Homo sapiens: one gene and its partners. The protein of the gene in region 4 interacts with the protein of the main gene of each other region in a pairwise test. Each region holds a gene or a part of one and is shown on either strand. Other genes may lie near its edges. The genes, in order: DAGLA, YIPF1, THSD7A and VMA21.

Region 1 (7,902 bases), on a different chromosome or scaffold from region 4:
CTGCAGGGAGCGGGTGAGACAGGCCATGGATACCCCTCAGACCAACATGGGAATGACCAGGGAAGCACCTGCAATGCTGGACAGTGTCTGCGTGGCAGCTACGGGGACAGGGCGAGTCCATAGCATGGAAAAGTCAGCTCACAACCCTGGGTCTGGGAGGGCCGTGTCCTCCTTCCACCCACATGGCTTGACACTGCAGCCTGGGCACAGGGCAAAAACTTTCCTCGGGGAGCAAGGATGTGAAACAGGTTGCTGGCTAAGGCAGACACCCGCATGGAATGCTGAAGAAACGGCCTGGGTGAGAGAAAAACAGGACTTCCAGCGCCATGGGGCAGGGTCTGCAACTCAGGCTCTGCAGCTTGTTGTCGGGAATTAGGCTCCTGGTGGCAGAGAGCAAAGCACTGTGCAGCCACCCTCATCCTCCCCACCTGGGAAGGCACTTCAGCCAGAAGTGGGGCCACATTGGGAGAGGTGCCACACCTGTCTGCCCTCAGAGGTGCCTGTAGCCCCCTTTCCTTTCCCCTATGTGTCTGAGGGCATCCTCCACACCTCCCCCCCCCGTCCCCCTGCCATCCAGCCTCAACCTCCCGCAGAACCATCCAGACCTGAGCCACATCGATCTGTGGATGCTCTGACCCACTTCATTTCCTTCAGGCCACAGCCCAAAAGACGCTGATGTGACTGCTCCCCACCCCCGTTCTCAGAACCCAGAGCCAAAGGAAATTCTCCAGAGAAAACACACACACTTCCCAAGTCTTCCTCCCACACAGGTACCCTAGATCTGTCAGCCACAGACACCTCCCAGACCTACCCTGGCAATGAGGCACGTCTGCTGCCCAAGCAAAGTGCTTCCTCCTGCTTGGGCCACTCCTGCAGGACTTCACAGCTGCCGGGGCCATGCTCAGGACTGTCCTCTGGAGACCGGGGGCCTGGTTCCAGCTCAGCAGCTGACTCACAGTGTCAACAGATCCCACTTGCCCCCACCGGGAGCATGTGCGCTCAGGGCCTCTAATTCCCTATGACAGGCCCTCAACCTTCCGGCTCCCTTCCTCCCAATCACATCCCGTGCCACCATTTCCTATGGCTCCTGCCTCCAGCCCTGGTCTCTTTACTTGATGAGACTCTCTGACCTTTGTACAGTCTTTCGCTGTTTGCAAAGTGTTTCCACGTGCACCATTTCCTTTCATTCTTTACTACCAGACCACCATGTGACATGCCTTGATTGGTGAAGTCACCTGCTGAAGGTCACACAGCCAACACTGGAATTAAAGTGATATGGCTCCAAAGGCATCGGACAGTGCTCCGGTTATAGGGAACTCATCAGCATCTCCAAGCACCCACCTTGGCAATTTGGCGACCACCTGCCACCCTACCCTCAACATCATCTTTTTGGACTCATAAGTGCCTTCCCCAGCACAAGCTCAACCCTGTGATTCTTCTACCACTGATCCCACTCCCCCAAGAGATCCACAAAGAACTGAAGATTTCCCCTACACTGTAAGACTTCTCTAGGAGGAGCTGCAAATTGCTTCTCTGTAAAGTAAGGCACTAGGTGATGCTGAGTGAGACCTTCACCCAAAGCTTCCCAAAGGACTGGTGAGAGCAAACACAATCTCAGCGCAGATGGAGGGGTTTTAACATAGGAGCTAAGCAGAGAGGACAGACAGAGCCCTTGGAAAGGAATTTAAGCCTGGGGGTGGGAGTCCCGGTGGCCCCAGCAGATTCCCAGTGGCTGCAGAATCATCTTTCAAGCATACCCCAATCGATCCAATCCTCTGGACCCAAAGGCTCCCCAGCATCAAAGAAGAGAGGCAACTCCCAGATACCCTGGAGTGAACCCATCAACCCAGGGAGAAGGCAGGACCCCGTGACTACAGATAGATGGTGCGCCATACCACTCCCTCACTCGCTGACCCGGGTTACCTCTTGGTCCTGCTTGCTTCTCAGGACATATTCTGGGACACCGATCACCACTGAAAATCATCCACCCCTCCCTTCATTCCCAAAGCTAGATGAAAAGCTAGATGAATGGTTCTCTCTACCTTAGCCCAGGACAACGGTAGTGCCTGGAAGGTCTCTATCTGGGTTACCATCAGGGCCCTTGTGGTAGAAGCTTCTCCTGGCATCTCTTGTTTATGCCCATTATAAAGGACACCAACCTTCTCCCAGCCTTCTGCCCTCCTCAGTCCAGTGTACCCAACAGGCATTAAAACTGGACCCCCATGACAGAGGCAGTGTCCCCTTCATCGCCCGTGAGGAAGGATGGGCATTTACCCTTCCCATTCATCAGGATGGGAGGGCCACGGACTCCCCCCGCGGCAGTGCCGGGTAGCCCCCCGCACCACACCGTGCCAAGGCCCTTTCTCACAGTCATGCCAGGAACTCTAGCCATGCTGAGAACACCAATTCTTCAAGCCCCCAGTGCTATCACCCCAGATCATGTCAAGCCCAAGGCCAGAACCATCCCAACACCCAAGCAATGGCAGCACTTCCTCACACCCATGCTAGCGGCACCACCATGCCGGCACGAGCTGGCCACCTATCCCATAACCAGTCCGAAGGCCGTGCCCATCACCTACCTGTGCAGACAGCTGCACCACCTCACACCTGCGTGGCCACCACCGCACCAAGGTGGAGGCGAGTCTTCTGAGACCCGTTCCAGGAAAACCACGCCGCCTGTGCCGGACCCACGTTGCCCACGCCCGTGCCACGCGTGTCACCATCCCCACGCTGGTGCCAGGGGCTCCACAGACCTCACACCTGCCACGGGCGCGCGTGGCAGCTGCAACTCCGCCCGCCGACCCGTCGGGCCGGCCACCGCGCGCCCTGGACACTGCCCAGCCCGCCGCGCCGCTCGCACCGCGCCCGCGCCCAGGACCGGCCCGCCGCGCCGGAGGCCCCCCTTACCTCCCGCCCGCCGCAGGGCTCGGCCCGCCGCCGCGACCGCCACCTCCATCCTGGGCTCCCCAAGGCCCCGATTCACTAACGCCGCTTCCGCAGGGCGCCGGCGCCGGCGCGAAGGCCGCCTCCGCCCCCCGGGGGACGCTGCGTCCTTTACGTAAACCCCTCTCCGCCGCCAGCGGTGACCATGGCGACGGTCGTGGGGAGGCAGCGCCCCCTGGCGCCAGGGAGGGGAGCGGCGTCGAGGCCAGGGAGAGCCGAGTCTTCCGCGGGCGCCGGCCCTGCGCGTGGGGGCGGTGGGCGCCTGGCTCAGGCTCGGCTGGGGTCCCGTGGGCGGCCGGGAGGGGCTGGACTGGCCGCGATGCGTGCGGGGAAGGGAGCCGCCTGGGTGCCTGCCCCTCCTTTAGGTCCCTCGTGACCAGTTTTAGCGTGGGAGAGGGAAAAAAGGAAGTAGGATCACTGGAGAACTGGTTCATTTGTGGGGAGGAGAGAGACGGGTCCCACCTCCTCGGGGTGACTGAACTCTGCTTGAGAAGTCAGAGCATGGCTAGAGTTCCTGGCGTGACTGTGAGAAAGGGCCTTGGCACGGTGTGGTGCAGGGGTCTACCCGGCACTGCCGTGGGGGGAGTCCGTGGCCCTCCCATCCTGATGAATGGGAAGGGTAAATGCCCATCCTTCCCCACGGGCGACAGAGCCCGTGGGTACCCTGGGTACCCCCTCCTCCCTACCACCCCCCCACCCCCCACCCCTACCCCCGTTCCCAGTGCCCAGCATCGTGCCTGGTCTCCAAAGGGGTTTACTTGGTCAATTTTGAATTTCTGGTAAATGAAGAAAACCGCCCCTCCTGTTCCCCTTCACGCCCTTTCATTCACCGTAAGTCGCTTACACCTCCCTGGGAGCACTGTGCTGAACTGGGGGAGTGGAGCACAGAGAGGAGCAGAAGGCGGGCCCTGACTTCAAGGAGCTCATTCTGCTGGGGAGGAGACGCAGATGGAGGGGGTTTTAACACAGAAGCTAAGCCGAGAGGACAGACAGAGCCCTTGGAAAGGAATTTAAGCCTGGGGATGGGAGTCCAGTCTGCAGGTCGGGATGACTCAGCTGGGTCCCAAAGATCCAGTAAAGATTCATCAGAGACAAAAAGGGGAAGAACGTTTTCTTTCAGGCAAGAGAAGTGCCTCTAAAATGTTTCCTAGGCCCTGTTGCCACCCCCAAAATCACAGTGATCGCGCAGTTCAGTAGAAGTGGGAGCCATAGGTGAACAAGGAGGTGTGGGTAGTGGGGTGCCCGGCTTGAGCAGAAGCCTCGGTCTGAAAATTACGTGGACATTTGGGTTGGAAATGAGACTGTGAGGCCAGGACTGCCTTTTATTGAAGCAGATGGAGCCACTTCTGGAAGGAGTTCTGTGTTACCTGTGATTATTTAGAAAGCAAACTCACGTAGGTAACAAGGAAAATGAGGAGTGGGCGCATATACCCAGTGGGGCACCTCAGGGGATTCAAGGAGGAGTTGAATTCCTCAAGGCTCAGGAAGGGCAGAGATCAGGGGAGGCTTTAAGGGACAACTGTAGCAGTATCAGTTTAGGGATCTTCTTTCTAGATCATTGCCATTAATCAGAATCAAAACTGCCAGATTGGATGTCTCTTGGTTCAAAGTTCCCGATTCCCAGAAAAAAAGAATCTTATTAGTCCAGATCAGGCCACGGTCAATCAGCTATGGCCAGGGCAGAAAGTGCTTTGTGATACAAACATGTCAGTCCACTTTTCCCCGTTGAGAGACACTCCCAGAGGAGGAGAATCATGACCTGAACAGCCAGTCCAAAGACTGTCGGCCAGGGGCGGTGGCTCATGCCTGTAATCCCAGCACTTTGGGAGGCAGAGGCAGGTGGATCACCTGAGGTCAGGAGTTCGAGACCAGTCTGGCCAACATGGTGAAACCCTATCTCTACCAAAGTACAAAAATTAGCCTGGCATGATGGCAGGTGCCTGTAATCCCAGCTACTCGGGAGGCTGAGGCGGAAGAATCACTTGAACGTGGGAGGCAGAGGTTGCAGTGAGCCGAGATCGTGCCATTGCACTCTAGCCTGGGCAAGAGAGCCAGACTCCATCTCAAAAAAAAAAAAAAAAAAAGGCTGTCTACTACGGATCCATCCCTTAGCTGTCCCATGTACACAAACTCACATGTGTCCATGTGCACACATGTGTCCCGACACACGCCAGTCCTTCTTCCCATTCCTCCAAAGTTGTCTTCACCAGACAAGTACCAACAGTCACCTTCACACTTGATGTCATGAGGCTACTATTATTTCAAGATCTTCAAGGTGATTGATCCCATCTGGTCATTTAACTGAATTAAAGGGTTACTTTTACCATCACCAAATCCTTTGAACTCTTGCTACTCAGAGTGAGACATTGGCACCACCCAGAAGCTTAACGGGAATGCATAATCTCAGGCCCAAGAATCTCAGGTTGGCAACAAGATTCCCAGGTGATTTGAATGCACATGAAAGGCTGAGAAACACCACTATTATAAATGTTAGGTGACCGGGTGCGGTGGCTCACACCTGTAATCCCAGCACTTTGGGAGGCTGAGGCGGGTGGATCACCTGAGGTCAGGAGTTCAAGACCAGCCTGACCAACATGGTGAAACCCCATCTCTACTAAAAATACAAAAATCAGCTGGGCATGGTGATGGGCACCTGTAATCCCAGCTATTCGGGAGGCTGAGGCAGGAGAGTTGCTTGAACCCGGGAGGTGGAGGTTGCAGTGAGCCGAGATCCCGCTACTGCACTCCAGCCTGGGCAACAGAGTGAGACTCCGTCTCAAAAAAAAAAAAAAAAAAATAGGCCCAGCGTGGTGGCTCACGCCTGTAATCCCAGCACTTTGGGAGGCCGAGGCAAGCAGATCACAAGGTCAGGAGTTCAAGGCCAGCCTGACCAACATGGTGAAACCCCGTCTCTACTAAAAATATAAAAATTAGCTGGGTATGGTGGCGCGCGCCTATAATCCAAGCTACTCAGGAGGCTGAGGCAGGAGAAGCGCTTGAACCTGGAATGCGGAGGTTGCAGTGAGCCGAGATCACGCCACTACACTCCAGCGACAGAGCAAGACTCCCTCTCAAAAAAATACATACACACATAAATGTTAGGTGAAAGGAAAAGGAAAGATAACAAAAACATTTTCAAATTGTGATTCATATTTTCTTAAAGGGGGAAATGGTCAACTATTTAATCTTCAACAACTCTAGTAACAAGCAAGGAAAGACAGGGAGGGACTGCAGTCTTTATTTTTGCAATTGGTCACAAACTCCTAGAAGGTACTAGCGAATTCCATCCTCTAACGCCTTATTTCTGTGTTCTGCAGGTCTCCTGCCCGATTCTTATTCAGTCAGGATTCTTTGCCTGACAGACTGACCTAAGCCTTCTTCTTGAGGGCTGAGCCATGGCTGTAAGGCATCTCAGCAGGCTTCCAGCAACATCGACCACTGGGTACAATGATGTAAGAGGTCCTTCACGGGGGTGTGGGTTCTACCCATGGTGTGTGTGTGTGTGTCTGCGTGTGTCAAAGATCCCCAGATGGCCAGTCCCAGTTTCCAGTGGAACCACAATGGTGCCTCCTGATGGATTTGCTCCTCCCTTCCATTCTAAAACCACCAGACACACAATCAAAACCCAGAGCCGCCTGCACAGGAAACAGGCATTTTGATGAGAGAGAGGGGCACCCTCATCACTTCTATTTCTAGTTCCAAGACGCTTTGGAAGAAACATATCAGAAAGGGTGGCTGTTCCAGAGCACACACTCCCCACAGACCTGACCTGGTCCAGCTACCAGAGGTGCATCCTCTCCACGCCAAAGCCATGCCTGGCCTTCTCTCTGAGCACCTTCAGGCCCAGTTCTGACAGCATTTGGCCAGGTGTCTTTGGAGATAGTCACCAGCACTGTGAGCAGACAGGAGCTGGGGAGGAGGACAAGAGCGAGGGCACCAGAACAGACAAGTCGTAGACTGGTCCCAGTCCAGCTGTCAGGCTGTGCTCCCTCCGCTCTGTGCCAAGTTCCCACTCTGGCCTCAGTTTCCTTCTGAGTCCCAGTGGGGATAATAACATGACTCTTCCTCCTGCGGGGCTGTGCAGATTAACTAATTAATGAGTGTGACAGCGTCTGCATCCACAAAGGGGCTGATTAAATGCTGAGTGTTGTTATTAGTAGCTGTGGCAGTTGTGTGACAGGCAGTTGGCTGGAGACAGATCTGCCCCCTGCCTCCTCCCCATGGAGGACCCAGATGGAAGGGTCCTCCATCTGCCCCATGCTCCGCAAGCCGAACATCTTGCAAGACAAAGCCAGGATGATTTTTAGCACCCCAAAGACAGCATAGAACTTTTGCGCATTTCCCCTGTGCTGGAATGTGAGTCACAGCCGAGCTTCATAGTGTAATCTATCTCCGACAGCTGGCACAGCTGTACCCTGCCCCAACTCAGCTCCCAGCAGCTGCAGGATGGGATGGCTTGGTCAGTAACTGCAGTAGGGTAGAGCTGCCTGCAGAAAGACAACTGCAGAATTCCTAAGCTGAGCACCATCCCCTGACTGTATTGCCCTGTGGAGGCAGGGATTGAGTGACCACCTTTCCTCACTGCCTGAGATAGTGGGAGCCAATATGACACCTTGGCTAAGCAGTCAGGGGAATTCAAAGCATGCAGGGTTTTAAAGTATAAAGTATCTGCTCATGGCCGAGGGAGATATAGTGACTATATTTTAGCTTGGCTGCAGGGTATAGGATAACTGGATGAAATCACAGCTCTGGGGCATGATAGCTTTAGCCTAGCTTATTCCCAGACGTAGAAAGTCCAGAGAGGCCTCCGAGCTAAACAGTGAATGTGACTTTGCAATACACAGCCCTGGATCCCGTAGTATGTGTGAGGTCTGTTGCCCACCCCTCCGATGCTGGGTCTTCCACCCTTGAATGTGATGAGTGCTGGTTCCCACCCTGAGTCCTGATGCATCTGACGAG
Region 2 (7,025 bases), on a different chromosome or scaffold from region 4:
ACACAAGCAATCAAATGGGTATGCTTCAAAAAGTCACCAATATTAGCTCTCCACAAACTGCCTCTTTACTCACTAGACTGAAAGCTTTCTGCTGTAGACAAGGACTAAATCTCACAGTATTATTCTGAGTGACCACACATAAGAGTGGCAAAAAAAACCAACAACAAACAAAAAACCCCACAAAGCCCCTATAGCCAAAAAGCTTTACTGAATGAATAAATCTGACCATGTGTTATAGATGAGCTGAGACCATCCAAGGGTATGACCACAAGTGGCCAAAATATTAACTTACAATACCCAAATAACTAGAAAACCAAGAATATTATGTCCTCTCAGTCATTATTTACTAAGTACCCACTACCCTCTGCTGGGGACACGATGATGGGCAACAGAGACACAGTCACTGCCTCTAGTGCACCCATGCACTCCGGGGAGACGATCAATAAAATATCTAATCTCAGAAGGTAGTACAGGGTGCCTATGGGAGCATATAGGGAAGGTGGAAAACCTAGAGAAAGGGATGTGTAAGCTGGGATCTAAAGAAGAACAGGAGTTCACCAAGTGAGGACAGAAGAGAAGAGAGGTCCGTGAAGAGGGAATAGCAGGAGCAGAGACTGAAGTAAGAGGTACCAGTTCGAGGCCAAGCTTCAGGTCAGGAGTAGCCAGAGATTGAAGAGATGGGCCAGAGTCAGATCATGAAGGGTCTTAGAAGCCCTGTTGAGTTAGGAATTTATCTTGAGGGCAACAGGAAGCCTGTGAATTGGGCCTGGTGGCTTAAGCCTGTAGTCCCAGCTACTCAGGACACTGAGGTGAGAGGGTCACTTGAGGCTAGGAGTTTGAGGCAGCAGGGAGCTATGATCATGCCTCTGAATAGCTACCGCACTCCAGCCTTGGCAACACAGCAAGACCTCATCTCAAAAAAAAAAAAAGTGGGGGCGGGGGGGAATGCGGTGGCTCACACCTATAATCCCAGCACTTTGGGAGGCTGAGGCAGGCAGATCACTTGAGCTCAGGAGTTCAAGACCAGCCTGGGCAACATGATGAAACCCTTTCACTAAAATATTAATTAACTTTTTTAAAGGCAGGCTGGTATGGGAAGATATGTATACTAATGTGAAGACTTATCTAGCATTCTCTAGCTGCCCCATGCTCTAAGCTACCTAACAACTCTGGCACGGGAACAGCTGGAGAAACAATATTTTCAGGTGGCCTGAAAGGTCCAACACCTGCCCACCCACTACCTCTATGTGGCCCAATGCTCATCCTTGGACACAAGCAAGATAACTTTCCCAGCCCTTAGCATTTTTGTCCCTCTCCTATTATCATCCCTCTCCCCCGTTTGCAACCCTTCACTGAACCTCCACTGCTTAAGGACAAAATCCTAATTCCTGAGGCTGATATAAAAGGCCCCAGGATCTGGGCTCTGTAACTTCTCCAGCTACCCCCAGTGGAAGGCTGGACTCCAGAGACTTACGACACCCACTCATCCCAGGACCTGCCATGTTGCTTCATACTGCCTTCTCCGTTTCCTGCCAAATTCCTACTCTTATTATGGGTTGGGGGTGGGAGAGAGCCTTAATTTAGGTTGTATTTATAATTAAAATTTCATATTATGCATTTTTATATTATGAAATATTTCTAACATACAGAAAAGCACGAAGAATAACACAAACACTGGTTACCTAGCATGTCACTTTTAAAAAATATTTTTAGGCCGGGCATGGTGGTTCACACCTATAATCCCAGCACTTTGGGAGGCTGAGGCAGGCAGACCATTTGAGGTTAGGAGTTTGAGACCAGCCTGGCCAACATGGTAAAACTCCGTCTCTACTAAAAATACAAAAATTAGCTGGCGTGGTGGCACATGCCTGTAGTCCCAGCTACTCGGGAAGGCTGAGGCAGGAGAATCACTTGAACCCAGGACTCAGGGGTTGCAGTGAGCCGAGATTGCGCCTTTGCACTCCAGCCTGGGTGACAGAGTGAGACTCTGTCTCAAAAAATATATATATATTTTTAATGGTATCATTCTATTCATATCCTTCCACAACATGCTTTTTAAAATCATTGTGCTAAGATTTATCTATATTTATGCTTTTAGCTCTCATTCATTTTTTTAACTACAGAATTCCATGTATAAATATAGTAGCACAATGTATCCATTCTCCTGCTGATGGATATCTTGGTTGTTTCTAAATATTTGCTATTACAAGCAATACTGCTACAGTGGATAATATTCTTCTATATGTTGTTCCATATATATGTGAATTCCTCTAAAATTATCTACCTAGGAGTGAAACTGCTGAATTATAGGGTATAAGCATCTTCAAACTGCTCCAATTTGTGTACCAGTTACATACCCACCAGTTACATACCTACCATACAAAAGTTTCCACTGCTCCATATCCTTGGCCACACTTAATATCAATGTTCATGAAATCTGACTTAGAGTATGTCACTCCTGGCTTGGGGCAGTGGCTCATGCCTGTAAGGTCAGCACTTTGGGAGGGTAAGGCAGGAGGATTGCTTGAGGCCAGGAGTTTGAGGCCAGCCTGGACAACATAGTGAGACCCTGTCTCTACAAAAAATACAAACATTATCCAGGCATGGTGGCACATGCCTGTAGTCCCAGATACTCATGAAGATGAGGTGGGGGAGGATGGCTTGAGCCCAGGATTTTGAGGCTGCAGTGAGCCATTATCGAGCCACTGCACTCCAGCCTGGGCAACAGAGCAAGACCCAGTCTCAAAAAACAAAAAAGTATGTTACTCGTCTGTCCAAACTCTCCAATGGCTTTGCATTCAAGCAAATGCCAAAGTCCTCACTGTGACTTATGAGACCTTACCTGTCCCTCCACACTGTCTCTCTCACCTCATCTCCTTCTAGGTCCCCCTGTTCACTCTCATCCAGTCGCAATAGCCTCTTGAGGTTCTTTGAATGTACTAGGCTAGCTCTTGCCTCAGGGCCTTTGCACTTGCTGATCCTTCTGTTTCAAGTGCTCTTCCCTTAGATATCTACATAAATCACTCCCAATTACTTCAGGTCATTACTCAAAATTCACCTTTTTAAATTTTCAAATTCACCCATTTATACAAACACTTCATGTCCTTCTTCTCTCTGCTATTAAATTTTCACCTAAGCATTCATTACTAGAAAACTATATATTTTACTTTTCTTTGCTTATTGTTAAGCTCAGTAAATTAAAAATTGCCTAAGGGTAGAGATTTTTATGTTTTCACTGCTGTATCTCCAGTACAATAGCAAGAGCTCAATGTTTGTTGAATGAATTGAATGAATAAATGAAGACAAGCCAAACTGTGTATGTTTACTAAAATAATGAGCATAAATAATCTTATTTTACTTTTTATTTCTCTGGTTGCAGGTGGGGCTAAGCATCTTTTCATATATTTATTGGCAATTTTTTCCCCAGAGTTGCTTGGTTTATTCTTCTAATTTGTGGGAGTTCGACATATATTCTTGTTTCTCACTGTTTGTTGGTTATATGCATTGGAAGTATGTCCCCTGGTCTGTGGTTTATTTTTTTACTTTACTTATGGTTTATTTTGTTGTGTAGAAATTTTAAATTTTAGGTGAAATGTAGTCAAAGTTATCAATCTTTTCCTTACACTCTGTAAATTGTCATCTTTTTCTTAACTGCCTTCCTCTAACCTCCACCCACAACAAAACCTAATCCTCTCTGCTATCAAACACTTCACCTATATTGTACCTTCTTCTTTTAACCACGTCTATGAGCTAATGAGGCTACTAGTGTCACAGAAAAGAAGCAAGCCTTGGATTCAAGCCCTGGCTTTGTCATGAGAGGCAGTATAGCATAGTGATGAAGAAATGGATTATGAGCTACAGTGTTGATTTGAAAATTGAGCCCAGCACTTACTAGCTGTATAATCTCAGGCAAGTTACTGGACCTCTGTGTGACTCAGTGTCCTCATCTATAAAATGGGGATAATAATAGTATCTCCCTCATGAAGTTGGATCTGGCATAAGGATTAAATGAGTTAATACAGGTACTGCCCTAATAATAGTGTCTGGCACATAATAAGCATTATATGTGTGTTTGCCATTATTATTGCTAACTCTGTAACTACGGGCAAGTTATCTCCTTAATCTCAGTTTTCTCTTTTGTAAGATAAGGCTACCTTGGAGTATGGGAAATAAAATAGCATAAAATACTAAAATAGTGCTTATCTCCACGCTTGGCACTTATAAGGTATTCAACAGATGTTAGTGTTCTCTCTTCTTCCTCATTGGGGCTAGGGACCATGGCCTTATCTTTAAATCCTCAGCCTCTAGCACAGAGTCTAGCATAAAATAAGGTGCTAAAAATTGTTTGAGCACCTGCTGTGTGCCAAGGCCTCTGCCAGGCACTAAAGACACTGAGGCACAGAGCCTGCCCCTCAGGATGTTCTCAGGCTACAAGTAAGAATGAATGAGACAGAGAAACCACCCTGACAACCCTCAGATGAAAAGCATGGGCCAGTGCAATGGTTTTCACACCAGGCTCCCTAGAGTCCATATTTAAAATCAACATATATGACTGCTTTACTATTTATCATTTCTGATTGAGCATATATATCAATGATCCTCACTGAGCATCAGCTTCCTCATTTGAAAAGTGGGGATACTTTGCAAGGGTTGTTGCAAGAATGAGATATGATCAAGTACACACACAGTCTTTGGTACAGCACCTGGCACACGGACAGCACTCTCTTCTCCCCTCAAACACAGGCCACTGTTGGGGCCTTTTCCTCAGGAGTACTGGGTGGACCTCTGAGTTTTTCTCAGACAGCATTAAGGTCAGGGATGACAACAATCCCCGGCCCAATCCTGTTTTAGACTTCCACTGCTGGTGACCAAATCCTAAAAGGAGCCAGCTCATCTGAGGGCAGAGCTGGAACTCAGCATATCAATGAAAAAGTGTGAGAATACCTTCTCCTCCAACATCAAATGGTCCAATCTCCACCTAGTCAAAGTGACTAAATTTGTCTCAAGTTGTAAAGTTATTTGAAGAATTTTTAAAAATCATTCTTTTTATTTTTATTTTTTAGTAGAGATAGGGTCTCCTTATGTTGCCCAGGCTGGTCTCAAACTCCTTGGGCTCAAGCAATCCTCCTGCCTTGGCCTCCCAAAGTGTTGGGATTACAGGCGGCAGCCACTGTGCCAACCCAGCCTTTAGTAGAGACAGGGTCTTGCTATGTTGCCCAGACTGGTCTCAAACTCCTAGCCTCTGGCAATCCTCCCATCTTAGCCTTCCAAAGTGCTGGGATTATAGGCATGAGCCACTGCGCTCAGCCCCATTTAAAGACCTTTGAAGGATATACTAGTACTTGTAATGATGACGTGGCACTAATATAACACATAATTGTATTCCTCCAAAATTACTTGCAAGGGTTGCTACTGAAGTTCAGAAAAGTCTAATAATACATGGCATGCCCCACCAATAGTGCAGTTCTCCACATTTCCAGGCAACCCTCACACTCACCCAAGTTCAACTGAAATACGGTAAACAAATCAGTACTAAACATACCATAGAGATCTGGATTGCTGCGGATATATAACCTCACAAAGTTTTTCCCGGGTATTGGCAAAAGAGATCCTTTAATTCTGTCAAAGACCTGGAAAACATCATAGCAGTAATTCTACTGAAGTTTTTTAAGTTTAATAAATTCAACTACTACAAAATTGAAACTCAGTCATTAGAGCTTTTATGATAGTATTTTCAAATGCTAATAACCCTTTACTTTTGTAAGACCATTTTCAGTATATAAAGGCTTTCACATTATTTGGTTGTTCAACCATTAAAGAAACAAGTCTCCTTTACCCGTAAAAGGAAAGGTGAAATTGGTTTCCAAACCTGGTAGGTGTCCACATCAAAGAATGTTTGGTAGTATTCAAATGTCCAGAAGGGGGAGCTTTTCTTCTGTCCAGCAAGTAACTGTCAGAAATAAAATAAAACATAATGAACACATAAGCAATTTCTTAATTCCAGCTGCGTGGGGTGCAGGAGGGATCTGATCTAATGGAAAAGCAAAACGTTTGAAACAATAGGCTCTTCCACATTCAATAACCAACTCTGAAATAGCCAATTCGCAACTCTCAGCCTGATTAGAAAAACAAGCATTGGTTTTGAAGTCACACCAAAAGGGTTCAAATCCTGGCCCCTCCACTGAGGGGAGCTTTGGCAAATCACTAGACTCCTGCTGGGCTTAGTTCCCTTATCTAGATTCAACAGTATATAGAATTATGTACAATAATAAATACATATACACACATACAACACATACAGAAGGCAGTCAGTGTAAATATCTTTTCGCTTTTTTTTTTTGAGATGGCGTCTCACTCTCTTTCCCAAGCTGGAGTGCAGTAGTGCAATCATAGCTCACTGCAGCCTTGAACTCCTGGGCTCAAACAATCTTCCCACCTCAGCTTCCCAAGCAGCTGGGACTACACGCGTACACCACTATGCCCAGCTAATTGTTTAATTTTTGTAGAGACAGAGTCTCATTATTTTGCCCAGGCTGGTCTCAAACTCTTGGGCTCAAGTGATACTCCCGCCTCAGCCTCCCAAAGCACGGGGATTACAAGCGTGAGCCACTGCATCCAGCAGTGTAAATATCTCTTCCTCCCCCATCCATCCACAATCCTCCCTACTATTGCCACCTGAATTCTCAAAAATCTGATATATTGACTCACTCTAAAGTACTAAAAATATTACTACTCTGACAAAAAAAAAAATCCTATTGAGAAGAGGCACCTGAGGAGGGCCATACCCATCCCAACAACACAGCTCTTTGGTGGCAGAATGCATGCCCAATGCCAGGAATTGTGCCTGTCATCTTCAGATATCCGAAGGGAATTCATACAGCAAAAAGTACGGTGAACACTGAGCTGCTTTGCAGGACAAGGGCAGGTGCTATAGGCAGATATTTTTTGTTCATTATAAAGGAAAACGGATGGCCGATTAGAAGTAGCTGTGGTCTGCAGCACTCACAGAGAGGAGTGAAAGCGGT
Region 3 (7,025 bases), on a different chromosome or scaffold from region 4:
TTCCTTTAACATCTTTGGTTTCTTGGAGAAACACCTGGTATACTTTCATACCATCTCTTGGTCCTGCTAAGATTTCACCCAGCCTGGCTGGAAGTCACTGGTTTACAGGGAAGCTTCCTGTGTCCTAGTGTATGTGTAGTGATTTAGAATTCTCTTCCACTAGTTGTCAAAACTTTAATCCCTCAGTCTGTCAAACTGATAGTCTTTTGTTGGCAATAATAGCATAGTGGGCTTCCTGCCTATTATGCTATTCTGATTTCAAGCAGAACTCAAGTATGCTTCAGCAGCCCTTTTCATTGACACAGACCATGTCATGCTAAGGAAGTGTCATTGGCTTGTCCCCTCAGAAAGTTCAGGCTACTCTTAGAGATTCTGAGTGTTCATGAAAGCTGTAACACATAATGCCCTTCTAAGTGTCCTCCCTAAGTTGTGTCTAATTTTACCACATTAGCCAAATTTCTGTATCAACTGTGGTTTGGGACTGTAACCGTTTCCTGCTGTCAGAATAGAGTTTCATTTGTGTTTTTCATTCTTATTGATTTTGGTCTATTGGAAAGTGGAAAGCAGGGCAGATCCATCATTGTTAACTTAAACATTTGAGCAGTAATTCTAAAATTATTTTTGTCTATGATCTGCCTCCCCAGATTCTTGGTTTTATTTAGTTAAACTTATGCAGTTACTATAATGTAATTTTTAGCCATATTAAATTATTTTTATTCTCCTACATGGTAAAATTGTTTCTGGATTTAATAGAAGCTAAAACATTTTAAATTTGATCACTAAGTTCTTGATTTGTGGCCCTGTGCTTTGGTGATGTCATTGATTCACTCTTCACTTTATTGGCTTCACTGATATCATGGTATAATATCTGAGCAAAACGTAGGTCAAAATATCTGATTTTTATCTCTTCTTCTCTAGGACTTTCTTGATCACACATGATAATTCATATATAATAGAAATATTCACAGCCAATATATTTAACATAAAGTTTAACCTATACTGTAATAAGTCAGAAAATATATGCAACTATCAATTTATTGGAAGTTATATATGCTATTTCTAATGGGATACAAGTTCCTGACAAATAAACTCTGCAGTTTTAAATATGTTTGTTTAATTCAAACAACTGGATGAGAATATTAGGCTCTATGCAATGGTAGCTACTAACCTAATTACACTTTTAATTGAGTAGTCAACGTTAAATTAAATGTCTACAGCATGCTAACCCAGTGATAGCAGGAAACAACTCAACTTGTCTTGGAGACTCATTCAATTATTTGATGTCAGCCAAGTAACTAATATAACTGTAATATACTTCAGGAAAAGAGATAAGAAAATCACCAGAATAAGGATAGTCAGAAAAGAACAAAATAGGAATTGAGTTGAAAATATACATGATACAGAATCAGAGGTACACACACACACACACACATACACACACACACATTTAAGGAGTTGTAGGAAACCTGGAGAATGAAGGCAGAACAACAGCCTTCATTCAAGGCCACAGGACCAGAACTAGAATGGAAAAAGGGCAAATTACCGTACAGCTGAAATAAAATGCAATCGTGTCAATACAAAGAGGGGAGAGAGTAGCAAAAATTCCAAAAAACAGTAACCAGAACTCTATGATGAGAGAAAGTTATTGTCTTAGACAGACCAATCAATTTTTGTTTATCTAATTAAACTATATCCTTTTCCAAAAACACTTTAAACCAGATTTCAAAATCTATGCATAGCAAAATCAGTAGACAAGAATAGATTGAAAAAAAAATCAGGTGAGAAAAAAAATAAAGCTAAATAAAGCTAAAGATATGTTAATAAACAACATGCATGCCACACAGTCCTATTTAGGTTCTTAACAGAAGAAGTTAACATGCAAATGTGGTCTGTTACAAGATTTCCAGAGGCCATAAGAAAAACAATCCAGCTGTTCACCAGAAGCGCAGAGGTCGAAACTTCAGGGAAATTTGTCTTATATGTTTTTTAATCAAGAGAATAGACTGTGTGATAGAGTTGATGACACTTTCAATATCATTTCTACAGTAAATCTGATATACAATTCTTACTGATGTTACTATATTTTTTTCAGTTCAATCCAAATCATAACTGCATAAATATTTCTGAAAAAGCAATTATGCAAATATCCAGATAAGCCACTCCCAGATGGTCTGGTTTATCCAAGAGCAAAATTCAAAATACCCAGAGAACATCATGTCTTTCAGATAATCCTCAATGAAAATTATTTTCACAATAAGTAAATCATACATGAGATAGTTTTTCATAATATAGTCATTATGTACCCAAAGATAATTTGTTAAATAATTTCTGTCTAGAAAATGAAGCTAATTAGTTACATGTTTCCTGAATGAGGCTACTCATGATTCAATACCCTCTACTTACCTTATTTTTGGCTGGTTGCTGTTTCCTTCTCTGGAGGGAGTTATTCCATTATATACAATGTGCAAGAAAATTATTCTTAGGTATAGCTCCCTGGGTTGTTGTTTAGAGCAGATTTTGTTTATAGGGTAATTCTGAAAATGCTGTCTTGGAGAGATTACAACTATGCCTTTTTCTATTAGCTCACTAAAATAAGTATCTGAATTTAAAATCCCAATATTTCAGCCCCTAAGCAATTTTTTTTTCTATTATAGGGAAACGACACTGTCTACACATAGAGAAGAAGCAGTATCTTTTCATGAAGAATTGCTCATGCTCCAGACTTTGAAAGGAAAATCAAAATAACTCAAGTAATACAGGGCCTAAATGTGGACACAATAGAAACAACACCGAGAAACTCACACAAGCTCAGAAGCCTTAAATTTGGGGGTAGCTCATCCTAGGTTGTGCCCCTACGTAATCCAGAAGTTATTAGATAGTACCGGATATCTTAGGTACTCATGATTCTTGACAGACAAGCCTGTGTAGTTAACAGTAATTAAAATGTTACCTTAAATCAGCAGCTTTCCCCGTCTTGTTAATGCACATAACCTCTCTGGTCTGATATCCAATCTGGATGTCCCAATATTTGTTCTCTTGTCTGTTCTGCCTGTTTCTGTTTCTCTTTTTCTTAATAAGCTCGCGGGCTTCTGGATCCTTTACTCCTTTGCTGCGGTCCTTTTCCCGTTCTTTATTCTTCCCGCGTCTCCTTGCTTGTCTTACTTGTCGGGAGTGGGGCATTGAGCAGGTGCTCCAGGGCCCCACATGCAGGCTGTACCTGAGCTCCTCGGCCTCGCATGGACTGGATTGGCACACCTGGAACTCCGTCAGGTTTGGACAGCCAGAGCCTCCGAACTGCGGGGGCGCCACCACATGACGCGTCCGGTGCTGGAGCCCGCTGCCGCAGGTCTTGGAGCATTCGGACCAGGCAGAAAATTCAGACACGATGCAATCTTGCTGGCAAGGAATGAGGCAAGCCTGCTCCAGGAGAGGCTTGGGCTCAAAGTACTCACAGATGATATCCTCCGCAGGAATGTCTTTGTCTTTCTGGATGCACGCTATCTCCCTCACCTGAATACCTTCTTCCCCCTTAATGCACTCAAGAGGTTTCTCTAGGCTTTTTGAAATCACGGGCTGACACTGATTCCAAGGTCCCAGTCTCCAGTCGTACAACTCTTTGTGCCAATCGCAAACTTTGAAACAATTCTGCTGGTTATTGGGTCTCTCGGCCTGCTTACAGTTAGTATGCAGTGTAGTCCATCCCTCCACATGAGCACACCACACAGCCCTCGTTTGGATGCCTCCGGGACCACATTCATCTCCCATACATCGGCCCCATGGACCTACAAAAATTATAACACAAAAATTAGCAGTGCTACTAGAAGAAAACTACAAGTTACTGCACATTCCAGAAAGACCTTTCAAGACCTAGTACATTAACTTCCCTGCGGTGTTACAAAGTAGGTCTCTGGACACGACTGTTGGAAAGTAATGATCCTCGCTAAGTATTTTTGCAAAAGGGGAACTGTGTCACAGAGTCTATATAAGGTAACTTCTGGGACAATTTCACTTTGGGTCCTTTAGGGATTACGAAAAGTTTGGTTTTGTTCATTTCCTTTGTTTTAGGTAGTTAGAAATCCTTGCTGATAAAGGACATCAGAAATTAGTCACAGTGAAAACTCATTACTCCGGCCTCACAATCATCAAATCCATTTCAGTAACTGGCAAAGAAAATGGCCCCGTGTGAAGAACTTCTCCTGCAGGCATTTCTCTTCCTGGACAGTTAACTATTTTGTGGAACTTGCTCTCTTCTTCAACATATTTTATTTTCATAGACTATGACTGCAAGGGTCTAATAGTTGTATATCATGTGTGCCACTAGAGCTTAAAGTGTTCACTCTCTGGTTATCAAAACTAAGAAGCAAAAATCTTCATTTACACACATTCTGCCTTTAAATTTACCAAATTTCCCCCCCATTTCCCAAGTGAAGTATAGAGCTGGGTAAGGGAATTTAAATGTAACTAAAAGACTTTTGCAATTTTCTAATCATTGAGAGGTTATTTGGGGTCTTATTTATTTATTCATTTCTTAAACATGAACTATTTGGTATTACAGAGCTGTTTGATGTGATACTTAAATCAGTGGCTTTAATATGAAATATGGGTTTTTTTCTGTGAAATCCTTCTTAGAATAAACTTTATATTCACATATATTATTTTTTTCTAAGGTAGATGATATGATTTTCAGTACTTTAATAGACAGATCCCAATTTACGAAATTGAGAATTGTATTATTTTGGAATCATAAAGAAACTTAAAGTTCATGTAAGTACATGATTTTCAAAAAGTATTCCATGAATTTGAGAAATTGTTTGATGTGCCTTAAAGCCATTTTCCATCTGTTGTGTGGGAAGGTGAGGGCCAACATGTGGGGTGGGCTCTAGTGCCCCTCACACCCTTACACTACTGTCGTCCTCCCTGATTGATGCTTTTATAAGAAAAACTCTATTTGTATTATTAGTTTTATTCACATGGGGATTATGCATAAGATTATGTCTGCAAGAGGTTTCTACTGTGGAAATTTGAAACCTGCTAAAGTAGGTCAATGGATTCGCTCTACGGATGAGAAAAACAGGAAACAAGAAGGGAAAGTGATTTGCTGAGTTCAAATATTTAATGAATAACAAAACCATTCTGGATTTTAGATTCCAGTTCCAACTTTTAGTTGTATGATTTCTCTTGGACATTAGAGCTTTAGCCTCAGTTAGTTTCTTCTGTACATAACAATTGCTAGTATATGAATAAAGAAATATAAAGAATGTGCCTATCATATTTAATCTAAACATTTAATTTTGCTTAATGAGAAAGATGTTTAAAGTTTGTTGAGAATTTCCTTACAAATGGCATTATGGAGTTGTAAATAGAATAGAGACTTGCTGTAAATATTGTGCTAACTAATCATTATTGCATGAAAGTAAATATTGCATAGTTGGCATACCCGTATCATTCCTTTATGAAGTTTGCATGTACAAAATTATAAGGGATGTAAAATGCTCATGCTTATTAGTGATGTAACATTCTTATAAGGGATATAAAATACTCAAGGAGACTGGGAAACAGTCTCCTTGAAGTATGAATGTTGAAACTTTATGGGAGAAAGCCAGTGGGTTTGTTGCATCTGTCAAAATGCAATCCACCTAATAATATTTTAATCTTATTTTTAACTTGCCAAAGAAAAAATATATATTCACAAATCTGGTGATACTTTCTTAAAGATTTTTCTAAATACTCACTTTGGGAACCACAGAACCTAGGAAACTTCTCAAAATGAGAACCCAGTAATATGTATAAAATTTTCTAATTAATTCCACACATCCTTGGCATTTATTCCCCATCCCCACTGTGCTTGAACAAAACAGTGGTCCTTATTTTCCATCTGAACACAACATATAAAGACATATTTATATCAGACTCTCAAATTAAGAGTAAACTATATGCCATTAAGTCTGAATTTGAAAATATAAGTGTCTTATACTAAATCAGACTCTAAATCCCAGATGTAATTTAGTTGAACTTCCTGATATATTATTTTTTTCCAGTTTTTAAAATTAATTATGAAATTAGACTGACTAATCAGATTGAGGCTACTAGTCTTTTATCCTCAGAGTGTAAACAAATGATTTTTTATAGCAAACTTATAAGGGTGTCACTTAAAAAACATAACTGTACATTTTTAGGTAGGCAGCACTATTATTAATAGTTGTGATTGGGCCGGGCGCTGTGGCTCATGCCTGTAATCCCAGCACTTTGGGAGGCCGAGGCGGGCGGATCACAAGGTCAGGAGATCGAGACCATCCTGACTAACACAGTGAAACCCTGTCTGTACTAAAAATACAAAAAATTAGCCAAGCGTGGTGGCGGGCGCTGTAGTCCTAGCTACTCGGGAGGCTGAGGCAGGAGAATGGTGTGAACCCAGGAGGTGGAGGTTGCAGTGAGCCGAGATGGCACCACTGCACTCCAGCCTGGGCAACAGATTGAGACTCCGTCTCAAAAAAAATAATAATAATAAATAAAATAAAATAGATGTGATTTACTAATTAACACAAATTAATGTTTTATTATAGAAATCTGAGTACACAAAATGTGAATTGACTTCAAGTCTATATGTTATTGCTAAGGAAAACACGCATACTGAAAATAACTTTTTTTCCCTAAAACAACTATGAAACAGAACTATGCTACACTAGTCAACTCTTAAGTCTGAAAATTACCTTAGACAAGATAAGGACTGGTGAAGATATCAAACTCTTACAAACCAAATTTTAGCAAAAAATCTTGGCTTACTTCTAAGTTCATTCTAAAATAAAAGTAGAAGATGGTTGCTTTGAAAATGATTCATCATTTACTGACATCAAATTATGGAGAGCTCCCTTTTTACACACTTCCAGAGTACCATATATGTTTCTCACGTAATGTTTAAATGTTAGTCACACTTTCGGTTAGTAGAATCAGTAATTTTTTCAAATATTTAATATCTGTTTATCACATTAGACTGACTCTATAGCCCCTTGAGGACAGGCCCTTGT
Region 4 (7,025 bases):
GTTTAAATACTTGCAGAAAAATACCCATGTATCATCACCTATTCAGCAAATGCCTGAAACCAAAACAATAATCCAACATTGGACAGTAACATTTTACAAACAGCATAAGATCCCAAAAGCACAAGAAATACCTTGGCATTATATAAAAAGAAATTAGGTGGACAATTCTAAATACAACAATACTTCTTAATTAGGGACCATCTAGAAATCTACCACATACTACCCTAGACTCAAATGTCATTATACTAAAATTGTAGTCTTTAAGCAAGAATTAAAAACAGTTCCATAATAATCATACTGATCTTTCACTTTTCTCAACAGTTAAACACAAATGCTATTTGACTTTTATGACTAATCATCCCTCTATTCCTTTAGTCCAGTTTCACAACATAAAAAATAAATGTGAACAACAAATCGGTAATGGTTTCACATACTTAAGCAAGAATCCTAGTATTAGGATTATCAGTAACAGAAAATTTGAATTTTAAGAGAATAAAGATAGAATGTGCTTATTTAGAAAATGGTCAATAAGGCCGGGCGTGGTAGCTCACGCCTGTAATCCCAGCACTTTCGGAGGCCGAGGCGGGTGGATCACCTGAGGTCACAAGTTCAAGATTAGCCTGGACAACATGGTGAAACCCCGTCTCTACAAAAAAATACAAAAAAAAATTAGCCAGGCGTGGTGGCAGGCATCCGTAGTCCCAGCTACTTGGGAGGCTGAGGTGGAGAATCACTTGAACCCAGGAGGCAGAGGTTGCAGTGAGCCGAGATTGCACCACTGCACTCCAGCCTGGGCAACAGAGCAAAACTCTGTCTCAAAAAAATAAATAAATAAAATAAAGAAAAAGAAAAAGAAAATGGCCAATAATCACTCATCTGAAAAAAATGCAAATAGCTGTCAGGAAAAGCTGGCAGAATTTGAACTTGTAAGCTAAACTTTTAGTGTGTATCAAACTAGCATTAAGGAATGGCTTTCAAAAATGAATACGGGATATCAACTAAAATAGAGGTTATTTTTAGATGGCAACATTATGGGGAATTTTGATTTTTTTTCCTGTTTGAATATGTATTTTTCCAGTTTTCTACAAAGAACATATACTATGATTTTATAATTAAAAAACAAATACTTGTGGGAGTGTTTTTAGATTGCACATAATTAGTACCAAATAACTAGAAAGAACACAGACTAAAGATACGAAAATAAAATCAAGGTTTTTTTCCATCAGATATGCCCAAGGAGAATACTTTTTGGATGAAAAAAAAATGTTTTCCAGATTGTTTCCACTCCTAACATATGCAAAAATGAACATATTTAAATGCAAATTCCTATCATATACACTACAATTTTAAAAAATAGTAAAAAAAACAATTTTAAATGGAGCTTCCTCGAACCTTTTAATTGAAGCCTAGCTTCAATGTTGAATGAGGAAGCAAAGTATCTCATTAAAAAGTTGGTCTGCAAAGCACAAAGCTGGCCTGCAAGGGGACTTGAAGGAAGCAGGCTGAGTGTTTGAGTAGTGAGATCTTTGCTTTGCTCTTTAGATCCTTCAGTAAGCTAAGGTCCTTTTACCTGAATGGATGTAATTTAGCCTAGTTTTCCCATAAAATAATGTAATGGATAATTCTTATTGACTAGGGATTACACTTCATGTGAAATTCCTCAGTGACATTCAGATTAATTCCAGTGTCCACAATTTAAGCAACTTTCCATAGGAAATTAAAATCCCAAATCCAAGGACCTGGTATTTTCATGCTAAAGAAAGCATTCCAGCGTAAAGTGGAGTTTAATTTGCTTCACTGTGTGCATCTTAATATATCCAAATGAGTAAAACTCAAAAGCAACCGTAAGTCAGAATACTATAAAACATGTTTTGTTGAAAGAAGATAAAATTCCTTCCAGAGTATTGTCTAATTAAATTAACATATTTCTTTGTAACTAACTTTTCCAAATTCTCATTTGCAAATCAGATTCATACAGTTAAAACTGAATATACAAACCAACATATTAGAAAGATCAAAATTTACATACTCAAACGTGACTCCTTAAGACTGACTTTAACATGTTCTTTCAACTTTATTCAAATCAGATGGCCCCCTCCAGCATTTATCATTTTAAAAAATGAATTTAATGCTATAAAAAGGTGATGTTCACTTTAATCCTGTTTGCCTTCACGCCACTGTCGTGAGCCTTCATTCCAGGCCACATACACAAAGAGGGCCAGCACCACATGGACGGCGACCACTGCAACAATAGCAGCGTAAAAATAGCTGTCCCTATTGGACATCCCAAGGGCGCCTATCAAGAGAAAAAAAACAGTTTCCATTTTATTGCAAAATTTACCAAAGTACAAAAAAAAAAAACAAAGCATCCTAATTTTTATGATGTATTTATTTAACTAGTCAGGCAATTAAAAAGTAATATTTTGGGTGGTAATGAATAAAGTATTCACTAAAAGATATGAGTACCTTCTATATATTAAGAACATTATGTTGGCCGGGTGCAGTGGCTCACGCCTGTAATCCCAGCACTTTGGGAGGCCAAGACGGGCAGATCACGAGGTCAGGAGATGGAAACCATCCTGGCTAGCACCGTGAAACCCCGTCTCTACTAAAAATACAAAAAAAATTAGCCAGGCGTAGTGGCAGGCGCCTGTAGTCCCAGCTACTCGGGAGGCTGAGGCAGCAGAATGGCGTGAACCTGGGAGGCAGAGCTTGACGCGAGCCGAGATCGCACCACTGCACTCCAGCCTGGGTGACTGAGCGAGACTCCGTCTCAAAAACAAACAAACAAACAAACAAACATTGTTTTAAACAAAACCATAATTATAAAGACTTCAGGCCGGGTGCGGTGGCTCACGCTTGTAATCCCAGCACTCTGGGAGGCCGAGGCGGGTGGATCACCTGAGGTCACGAGTTCGAGACCAGCCTGGCCAACATGGCGAAACCCCGTCTCTACTAAAAATACCAAAAATCAGTCGGGTGTAGTGGCGGGTGCCTGTAATCCCAGATACTCAGGAGGCTGAGACAGGAGAATCGCTTGAACATGGGAGGCGGGGGTTGCGGTGAGCCGAGATCGCGCCATTGCACTCCAGCCTGTGCAACAAGAGTGAAACTGTCTCAAAAAAAAAAAAAAAATTTCAACATCAAAAAGGGGACTTCATTCTCTCTTCCTTCCGTTATCTGACACTAAAGTCCATTCCCCCAAAATTCCTCCTCCCATGTCAGCCAACCCCTATTCTTTAAAAGGTACTAAGAGAAAGGATTTGCAAGCTATTTCACAGAAAACCATAGGAAAACTGTCAAGCTGAAACAATAAGTTATTTCATAAAGACTCATTATGAGCAATATGATTTTTTGAAAAGCTAAACAAGAAAAAAATAAGAATACCCAGTTTAAAGATATAAAGAGGTCATAAAAGCACAGAATCTTAAATTGGGGGAAAACATCTTGTTTTAATGGGTCTAAGATTACCTTCAAATATGTAAGATTTAGTTGTGAAATATAACCCAATAGGAACAGTGATCATTAAAGCTGTGAAGAACAGGAGCGTCTTCAGTGTAGATGCTAATGAGCTTTCATTTCTGGAATAAAGTAAACAAAGAGAAAATCAGAACCTGCACAGTCATATCCAAACGCTCTTATGTCCCTGAAACTATAAACATCCACAAATGAGATGCTATGCAGGAGGAAGATCACAGGCAGGGACTCGTAATCCGAAGATCCTAGAGAACCAGCTGTGGGTAGTGGGAATTTCTTGAGCTGGAACATGAAGATTATACACCACCTTTAGGGACTGTCATTCATATCCAGTGTAAGACGAAGCGTCAGGGCACCTCAGATCAACTGCCAACAAGCTGGGTGAACAAACTAAGTGAAGAAACTCAGTGCCCCTGCCTCTGGAACTGGAGCTTTTACCCAGGGAAGCCACGGCGGACAGCGGCACCAGTGCCCAACCCATGCGGCAACCGTGTCCACCAGCACCAGACACCAGAGCTGGGAACGCAGCAGGCACCATGGGTGGATCAGCGCGCCCTCTTTTGCTGGAATCAGAGCTTCCGTCACGGGAAGCGACCAGCTTGCTGTCCTCCAGCATGAGACAGTGGACCAGGGAACTAACGAGGCAGACACACCTGTGCACCCTCCCACACTGGAATCAGAGCTTTTGCCCAGGGAAGCCACTGTCACACTGGTCCCTGAGCCCACGCAGCAACCCTGACCACCAGCACCGGACACCAGACCAGGGAACTCGGCAGGCACCACAGGTGGAGCAGTGTGCCCTCTCCCGCTGGAATCGGAGCTTGCATCTGGGAAAGCTGCCAGCCTCCTGTCCTCCAGCACCAGACAGTGGACCAGCAAACTAACCAGGTGGAGCCGACGCACCAGCGTGCCCTCCCCCACTGGGATCAGAGCTTTGGCCCAGGGAAGCCACTGCCACACCAGTCCCTGAGCCCGTGCAGCAACCCTGACCACCAGCACCAGACACCAGACCACTGAAGGAGGTAGGCAGGGCGAACGGACCAGTGCGCCCTCCCCAGCTGGAATAGGAACTTCTGTTATGGGTGAAAAATCGAGCTAGAGGGAATACTTCCAAACACGTTTTAAGAGGCTCCAATCACCTTGATACCTAAGCCAGACAGACACAGCAAGAAAACTACAGGACAACATCACTGATGAACACTGGTGCAAAATTCCTCAATAACATATTTTCAAACCAAATTCAACAATAATCAGGCCAGGTGTGGTGGCTCACACCTGTAATCCCAGCACTTTGGGAGGCCGAGGCAGGCGGATCACTTGAGGCCAGGAGTTCGAGATCAGCCTGGCCAACATGGCAAAACCCAGTCTCTACTAAAAATACAAAAATTAGCTGAGAGTGGTGGCGTGTGCCTATAGTCCCAGCTACTTGGGAGGCCAAGGCACAAGAATCCCTTGATCCTGGGAGGCAGAGGTTGCAATGAGCCAAAATCACACTCCAGTCTGGGCAACAGAGCAAGACTCTGTCACAAACAAACAAAACCAATACATCAAAAAGATTATATATTATGACCAAGTAGGATCATCTCAGTTGATGCAGAAAAAGCACTTGACAAACTTCCGCATCCTTTACTGAGCTGAAAAAGAAATCAAGAAAACAATCTCATTTATAATAGCATTAAAAAAAAATACTTAGGGGCCAGGCTCAGTGGCTCATGCCTGTAATCCCAGCACTTTGGGAAGGCTGAGGCTTGAGGCCGGGAGTTTGACGCAAGCCTAGGTAACACAGCAAAACCCCACCTCTACAAAAAAAAATTTTGATAATTCGCTGGGCATGGTGGCACGTGCCTGTAATCTCAGCTACTCAAGAGGCTGAAGTGGGAGGATTGTTTGAGCCCCAGAGGTCAAGGCTGCAGTGAGCAGTGATTGGGGCACTTTACTCTGGCCTGGGTGACAGAGCAAGACTCTATTTCAAAAAAAAAGAAACTTAGGAATAAATTTAACCAAGGCGATGAGTGACTTGTACACTGAAAAGTATAAAACACTGATGAAAGAAATTGAAGATGACACAAATAAATGTAAAGATATCCTGTGTTCATGGATTGGAAGAATTAATACTGTTGAAATGTCTACAGCACCCAAAGCAACATACAGATATAACACAATCTCTATCAAAATTACAGTAGCATTCTTCATTAAAATAGAAAAACAATCCTAAAATTCATCATACAGAACCACAAAAAGCCCCAAATAGCCAAAGCAACATTGAAAAAGTTGTAAGCATCACACTTTCTGATTTAAAATATTACAGTTATAGTAATCAAAACAATATGGTATTGGCATAAAAACAGAAACATATAACAATGAAACAGAATAGAGCCCAGAAATAAATCCAAACATATATGGCCAACTAATCTTCGACAGGGGTGTTAAGAGGAACACAATGGGGAAAGGACAGTCCCTTCAATAAGTGGTACTGGGAAAACAGGATTTCTACATGCAAAGAAAAAAACTGGACTCTTACACCATAAACAAAAATCAACCCAAAATGGATAAAATAACTAAAACATAAAGATATAAAGTTTTAAGACATAAAAGAACACAGAGGGAAAGGTCCTTAACATTGGCCTCAGTAATGATTTTTTGGATATCACACCAAAAGCTCAGGCTACAAAAGAAAAAATAAAGCGGCTTGCATCAAACTAAAAAGCTTCTGTACTGCAAAGGAAACAATCAACAAAATGAAAAGGCAGCTTACAGACTAGGAAAACATATTTGCGAACCACCTATCTTGTAAGGGGTTAATACCCCAAAATTTATAAAGAACTCTTACAACTCAGCAGAAAAACCACCTGATTAAAATATGGACAACAGCTGGACAGACATTTCTCCAAAGACATAAAAATGGCCAAGAGATAAATGAAAATGTGCTCAACATCACTAAATCATCAGGGAAATGCAAATCAAAACCACTATGAGATATAACCTCACACTTCTAAGGACAGCTATTATCAAAAAGGCAAGTGATAACAAATGTTTGTAAAAGTGTGGAGAAAAAGAAACCCTACTACATTGTGACTGGAAATGTAGACTGGTACAGCCATTATGGAAAACAGTTCCTAAAGAAATTAAAAATAGAACTACCACACAGCCCAGCAATCTCTCTTCTGGAATATAAGCAAAGGAGATGAAATCACTACCTCGTAAAAATATCTGCACTTCCATGTTCATTGCAGCATTATTCACAATAGCCAAGATTTGAAAACAACCTACGTGTATGTAGACAGACAAAATAAAGAAACCGTAGTGTATATATACAAGGGAATATTTTATTCAGCCTTAAAAGAGGACATCTGCCATTTGCCACAACATGGATGGACCTGGAAGACATGTTAAGTAAAATAAGCCAAACGCAGAAAGACGAATACTACATGAGCTCACTTATATGTGGAATCTTTAAAAAAAAAAAAAAAAGGTCAACGGTCAACTACACAGGGACAGAGAATAAAACAGTAGTTACCATGGCGGTGGGGGTGGGAGGCTGGAGGGGA

The links.
Region 1: the proteins of VMA21 (region 4) and DAGLA interact in binary tests that used the Homo sapiens proteins (3 or more experiments, as listed by UniProt).
Region 2: the proteins of VMA21 (region 4) and YIPF1 interact in binary tests that used the Homo sapiens proteins (3 or more experiments, as listed by UniProt).
Region 3: the proteins of VMA21 (region 4) and THSD7A interact in binary tests that used the Homo sapiens proteins (3 or more experiments, as listed by UniProt).

The regions. Positions count from the first base shown.
Region 1 is NC_000011.10:61,675,510-61,683,411, reverse strand, and holds the start of DAGLA (diacylglycerol lipase-alpha), read right to left. Parts: upstream 3,022-7,902; 5' UTR 2,908-3,021; intron 2,601-2,907; exon of another isoform or gene 2,580-2,600; intron 910-2,579; exon of another isoform or gene 812-909; intron 1-811. UniProt on the Homo sapiens protein: Serine hydrolase that hydrolyzes arachidonic acid-esterified diacylglycerols (DAGs) to produce the principal endocannabinoid, 2-arachidonoylglycerol (2-AG).
Region 2 is NC_000001.11:53,872,773-53,879,797, forward strand, and holds part of YIPF1 (protein YIPF1), read right to left. Parts: intron 5,951-7,025; coding exon 5,870-5,950; intron 5,631-5,869; coding exon 5,543-5,630; intron 1-5,542.
Region 3 is NC_000007.14:11,633,180-11,640,204, forward strand, and holds part of THSD7A (thrombospondin type-1 domain-containing protein 7A precursor), read right to left. Parts: intron 3,783-7,025; coding exon 2,951-3,782; intron 1-2,950.
Region 4 is NC_000023.11:151,400,187-151,407,211, reverse strand, and holds part of VMA21 (vacuolar ATPase assembly integral membrane protein VMA21), read right to left. Parts: intron 3,582-7,025; coding exon 3,472-3,581; intron 2,297-3,471; coding exon 2,154-2,296; 3' UTR 1-2,153. UniProt on the Homo sapiens protein: Required for the assembly of the V0 complex of the vacuolar ATPase (V-ATPase) in the endoplasmic reticulum.